2 separate regions of the Homo sapiens genome follow, and region 1 is linked to region 2. The links come from fine-mapping of genetic effects on gene expression. A gene starts in region 2. The other region holds a variant in brackets. All regions are shown on one strand. Distances are from middle to middle. Region 1 has its middle 15 kb from the start of GDF7. Region 2 holds the start of LDAH (lipid droplet associated hydrolase).

Region 1 (2,910 bases), 140 kb before region 2:
GCACCCCCTGGCTGTAATGGACGCCCAGTCACAGGGTCACATTCTCATCCCAGGGAAGAGGAATTTTCCCATAGACTTACCCAGCAAGGAAATCTGTCCCAATGTGGGGAGGTCAGCACAGGCCCCTTTGCCAGAATGTTTGAGGAATGCAACACAAAATGAAAATGCTCGATTATCCCAGAGCACAGTCATGTGTATTGTTGCTGTAATTCCCACTCGGGGTGCTGCGCGGGGTTAGTGCTCAGCAAATAATAAACTACATATTTGGTAGTTGCTAATACCCAAACTCCAGAGGTTTTCTAATTGTAGAAGAATGGAAGTAACAGTTGCAGCCATATCAGACAAGATGAATGGGACACAAGGGATAGTGGCCTTGCTTCCTTGCAGTCCCCCAGTGCCAGACACAAACAGTCTGCAAAGATTCAGACATCCTTGAATCTATCTGACCCAGTTGTGCACAGCTCTGCTGGGGAAACACTTAAGGGATAAAAGAGCAAGTGTCCATGTCTGCACTCCCACTGATGTGTCAGTTTTAAGATGAAGAAGCCCAGAGATGTGATTTCCTGGTAGTCCGACCCAATGTGAGAATTGCACTTTTTCACAGCTTGCCTATTAGGTATGGTAGAAACTTTTTATTAATTTAGATAACAAAATTTATAGACTACCCTGTGTAGCAGGCCATATTTGATATGCCCTGACAGCACAGAGATGACTAAGACAGAAGGTCATCTTCTAGGACTCTCCTGAGAGAAGGGGTGTTGGTGGAGGCAGGGAGGAGCAGACTGCAGAGACACAATCCCGCAGCAATGATAAGTCATTCAGTAGACACAGGCCAGGCCAGGGGTCATGAAGACTGGCAGGGCATGGAAGGGTGGGAAGGACCGCTCTGGGAGGCAGGAGCAGTTGGTATTTTAGGCCACGTCTCATGGGGTGGGGTAGAGGATGGGCGTAATCAAAGCTGGAGCAGTGATTCCTGTACAGAGGAGTCCACAGGAAGCTCCCGTGCGTGGCATAAGACCAGGTGGCTATGGAAGAGTTGCAGAGGTGCCGGCCATGTGGCTGCAGCCACAGCACTGACTCCCAGCATGTGGGCTTGCTTTCTCTCAATCCACTGCCTGATGCATATTTTTGCCGTCTGAAAACTGGTCTCTGTTATAGCTTTCATTCTTTTAAAACTACTCATTTGTTACCAACGATCTACTCGTCACTTCTTCTGTCAATCGGGTCCTCATTTGCCCTTTGCGTGACTCTCTTTCCCGGCTCTCCACTTTTGCTAGGCTTGCCCACTGTGGCCTCCAGGAGGCAGCATGATGCAGTGGAAAAAGGGGATGAAGTGGTGGCTCTGGAGTAGAGGCCTGAATTGGAATCTGGCTTAGTTCATTTTCTGTTGCT[A/G]TAATGGAATATCAGAGACTGGGTAATTTATAAAGAAGAGATTTATTTCTTACAGTTCTGGAGGCTGGAAAGTCCAAGATTGAGGGGCTGGCATCTGGTGAGGACCTTTGTGCTACATCCTCCCTGGCAAAAGGTGGAAGGGCAAGAGAGCATGAGAGAACAAGAGATCAAACTTGCAGCCTAATATTGTGGCTTTTTATCACTGGCATTAATCCATTCAGGAAGGAAGGGCCCTCATGACTCAGACACTTCCTGTTAGGACCCACCTCCCAATAGTTGCATTGGGGATTAAGTCTCTAACACACGAACTTTGGAGGACATGTGCAACTACAGGAGAACCCCAGCTCTGTCATCTATTAACTGTGAGGTCCTTAGCAAGGCACCTCAGTGGTAATCTGTATAATGGGCATAGTCAGAACATCACAGGATTGGGAGGCCTAAGTGAGACACTGTGAAGGTGCTGGGGTGAGCAGCATACTCCTTATCTGGATTAGCTCTCATCTATTCCAAACCACCTATCCAAGTTCTACCTGCCCTTCTAGGACTAGGGGCAACCTCATCCTCTTCTCTCTTCCAAGAGCTTTGTCTTTATAGAACCCTTTATAGAACCATAGAACCACCCAGAGCTTTCTTTGACCCTCGTTCGTGCTCTGAGGATGCTCACCCAGCATCACACTCAGTGACGCCGGTCTTGCTCTAGAGATGCCTTCAGCCTGGTGGGAGAGGCCAGACCCATGTCCCACAGACACTCCTCACCTGGGCCAATGTGATCACTTACCCATGTCTGTATGGGGCACAGGCAGGAATCTCAATCCTCTTAAAAAGTGATTAGAAGAACACTCATATGAGCTTTGCTGTCCTCAGCACTCCTGCAGAAGAGCTTCATTCAAGGTCCCACAGATGTATTTGTTCACAGAGCACACTCAGTCCCAGCCTCCAACCTCTCCTTAAGGCCCACCCCTAAGGGAAGGAGCAGCCCAAATATATCCTTGCCTCTTCTCTTCTGCAAGAGAAGGCCAGGGATGAAGATGTCTCAAGCCATCTAAGAAATGCTTTGCTTCCCGCATCTTTTCTAAATCGACTGTTAGAACATCCTGGGCTGTGTGCAGGGAGGCCTGAATGGGCTGAGGCCAGAAAGCTGAGCCAGGTGAGCAAGTGTTATCCCTGCGTAAGAGCCAAAATGCTGACTGCTAGAATCAAGTTACAAGCCTGGTGAAACAGTGCAGGGACTGAGATACCACAGGGTCCTCTGCTACACTAAAGAGAAGAGAAATGAAAGGAAAAAAGGAAAAACAAGTTTGCTATCCTCCTTTAGGTACCATTTTATAGAGAATCCACCATATGCCAGGCAACATACTAAATGCTATATGCATGACCTCATTTTATCTCCATTAAAAAAAAAATGAGGAGCTGGGGGACTCAGGGAGGTGAAGTGAAGTCTTATGTCACAAACCTAACAAATGACAGATCTGGGATTTGAACCCAGGTCTTCATTTACTGCGTACAAGAGGAAATAGC
Region 2 (2,910 bases):
CACAAGAGACACTCCTACGTATAGTTTCAGAAAGAAGTTTAATTAAAAAACAGCTTTTGAGAATAAACATTCTGGAGATGCTTCTAAATCTTCTGGGTTTCTTTTGGTTGTATCTCTTTCTCCATACAGATTTGTTCTTTCAACTCAAGGACTATCAACTCTTTTTTTTTTTTTGAGACTGAGTCTCACTTTGTCGCCCAGGCTAGAGTGCAGTGGCGCCATCTCGGCTCACTGCAAGCTCCACCTCCCGGGTTCACGCCATTCTCCTGCTTCAGTCTCCCGAGTAGCTGGGACTACAGGCGCCCGCCACCACGCCCGGCTAATTTATTTATTTATGTATTTATTTTTGTATTTTTAGTAAAGATGGGGTTTCACCGTGTTAGCCAGGATGGTCTCGATCTCCTGACCTCCTGATCCGCCCGCCTCGGGGTCCCAAAGTGCTGGGATTACAGGCGTGAGCCACGGCGCCCGGCCAGGACTATCAACTCTTGTGTTTGGTACACAGGACACAAAGCAGGTGTCCGGTAACTACTTGCGAGGGAAGATACGAATTAACCAAGGAATAAAGTGTTCCAATCTGCATTCTGTCTTGCGTGGGGAACAAAACCAAACTAAGACCCAAGGATGAGGGTTTACGGTTAAGGTCTTCAGCGTGAATAAAAGGCGGCGTGAGCACTAAACGCCGGGGGCAAAGAACACTCCCGGCCCAGAGTTTGACCCCTCCTAGCGAGTTCTTCCCGGCCAGCTGCCCAACTTTTTGGCCTCTACTCCTCCGCGGGGGCACCATAAGACTCCCTACAGGTGGGCTACACTTAGGGGTTCAAATGCTGCATTACCGCGCTCGGGTGAGCGACTGCCCGGCCTGCAACTCAAGGGACTCCCAGGCCAAGTGGCTCCGAACTCGCGAGCTGTCGGAACAGTATTATTTTTGCTGCTACGGGCCATCTGGCCCAGGGCAACAGGGGCTCTGCGAGGAACCATAGAGAAGAAGGGGCGCCAGATCCCGCGTGCCTGCCCACCCGTCCTTCCTTTGGGCAGTCACCCTGAGCTCGGCAAGCTGTACCTCACCTGTCCACCTGGAAGGCTGCCCGCTCTCCCTGAGGGTCCTGGGAAGGCGGCACGAGACCGGAAGTGCCCCCCTCAGGTGACGTCACAGTACCGCGCCGGAGCTGATCCGGGAAGCCGATGTCAGCCTGGCGCGCGGCGCACAGCTGGCTGGGAGATTTCTTACTGGCTTGGAGCCGGTGGTCCAGATCAGAGAGACCTCTTGGAGGGTGTCGGGGTTTTCCTTTCTTTTTCATTTGAATTTTATCCGCCTTTTATTTTCTGTCATCCTTGATGTGCTTCTGGCTTCTGGCTTCCCTTTCCTTCTCTCTCATTTGTTCCATGTCTGCCCCTCTTTTCTCCCTCTTCCCATTTCCCTCTTTCTGCGTTACTAGTTGCATATCTTCCCCACATACACAGGAAAGTTGATTCTCATTTGATCATGTTCATAAGCATGATCAATAAAGTATTTTTTTAATTAAGGTGTTGCCAACTTTAAGAAAATTCAGAGAATAATATTAAGTATAGAGTTTATTTGGGCTCAGTGCTTGAGAATGGCCACTCAGGAGCTTAGATTCAAGTTGCCTTGAATATACACTCCAATTAGCAGCAGTCGGAGTAGGTTTTTTTTTTTTTTTTTTTTTTTTTTTGAGACGGAGTCTTGCTCTGTCGCCCAGGCCGGACTGCGGACCGCAGTGGCGCAATCTCGGCTCACTGAAAGCTCCGCTTCCCGGGTTCACGCCATTCTCCTGCCTCAGCCTCCCGAGTAGCTGGGACTACAGGCGCCCGCCACCGCGCCCGGCTAATTTTTTGTATTTTTAGTAGAGACGGGGTTTCACCTTGTTAGCCAGGATGGTCTCGATCTCCTGACCTCATGATCCACCCGCCTCGGCCTCCCAAAGTGCTGGGATTACAGGCGTGAGCCGGTTTTTAAGGAAAGGAGAGGAGGCAGAGCTTAACTTGTTTACCAAGAATTTATATTTAAAAAACTTAAGCTATTGACTGGCTATGCTTTCTTCCTTGTATCACAAATTCCAGGAACATAAAGATAATGGGTGAGGCAGCTAATAAAGAACAAAATGCCTTTAACAATTGCCCTAAGGCATGGGAAGGCGTGGCGGAAGCCAGTATTCACTTCTGTCCGGGTCTAATAAATTTTGCATACCTCACATAGCTCAGACAGCTCTGGGCTATTTTTCTTTTCTTAGTATGTACTTTTTTTAGACATAATACTGTTGTACACAATAATCTACAGTACAGTGTAAATATAAATTTTATATGCACTGGGAAACCAAAAAAATTCTGTGAACTGCCTTATTGTGATGTTTGCTTTATTGTGGTAGTATGGAACTGAACCCCCAATATCTTCAAAGTATGCTTGGATTTAAAAAAGAGGTTTACTTAGCTCATGGTTCTGCACATTGGAAAGCTCAAGGGGCATAGTGTGAGCATCTGCTCAGTTCTGGTTAGAGTTTTTTGTGCAGTGTCACAACATGGTAGAAGGTCAAAGGGGAAGCTGATACATGTGAAAACAGACCAAACAGGAGGTGGAAAACAACCCACTCTCTCAGGGACTCTCTCTTTTCCAATCTCTCAAGAGCTGTTATCAAACCAAACTGGAGTCCAATTGCCTGTGCAGCAAGACCAAACACTGACATCAGGATTATAGTGAAAGAAAGTGAGGCATTTATTGTAGGGTCCCAAGCAAGGAGAACTGGTCAGTTAGTGCTTAAGTCTTGAACTCCCTAATTGTTTATAGGTAAGGGTTTTTAAATGCAGGGGTGTCAGAGGTTATAGGCAAAGTCATAAATCAATATATGGAGGTTATATATTGGCTTAACCTAAAAATGCAGTGAGGTAGGATGC

The links.
Region 1: its variant is fine-mapped to the expression of LDAH in whole blood (TOPMed, PIP above 0.99). The same link has a PIP of 0.9 or more in monocytes.

What each region holds. Positions count from the first base shown.
Region 1 is chr2:20,681,074-20,683,983 of GRCh38, forward strand. It overlaps a transcript of LDAH not described here. Among named protein-coding and RNA genes, the nearest start is that of GDF7, 15 kb to the left of the region's middle. The variant A/G (reference allele first, on the strand shown) is at 1,393.
Region 2 is chr2:20,821,969-20,824,878 of GRCh38, forward strand. It overlaps LDAH (lipid droplet associated hydrolase), which reads right to left and starts at 1,133. Exons shown (of 7, transcript NM_021925.4): 1 at 1,069-1,133. RefSeq lists enhancers at 9-834, 637-706, 927-1,316.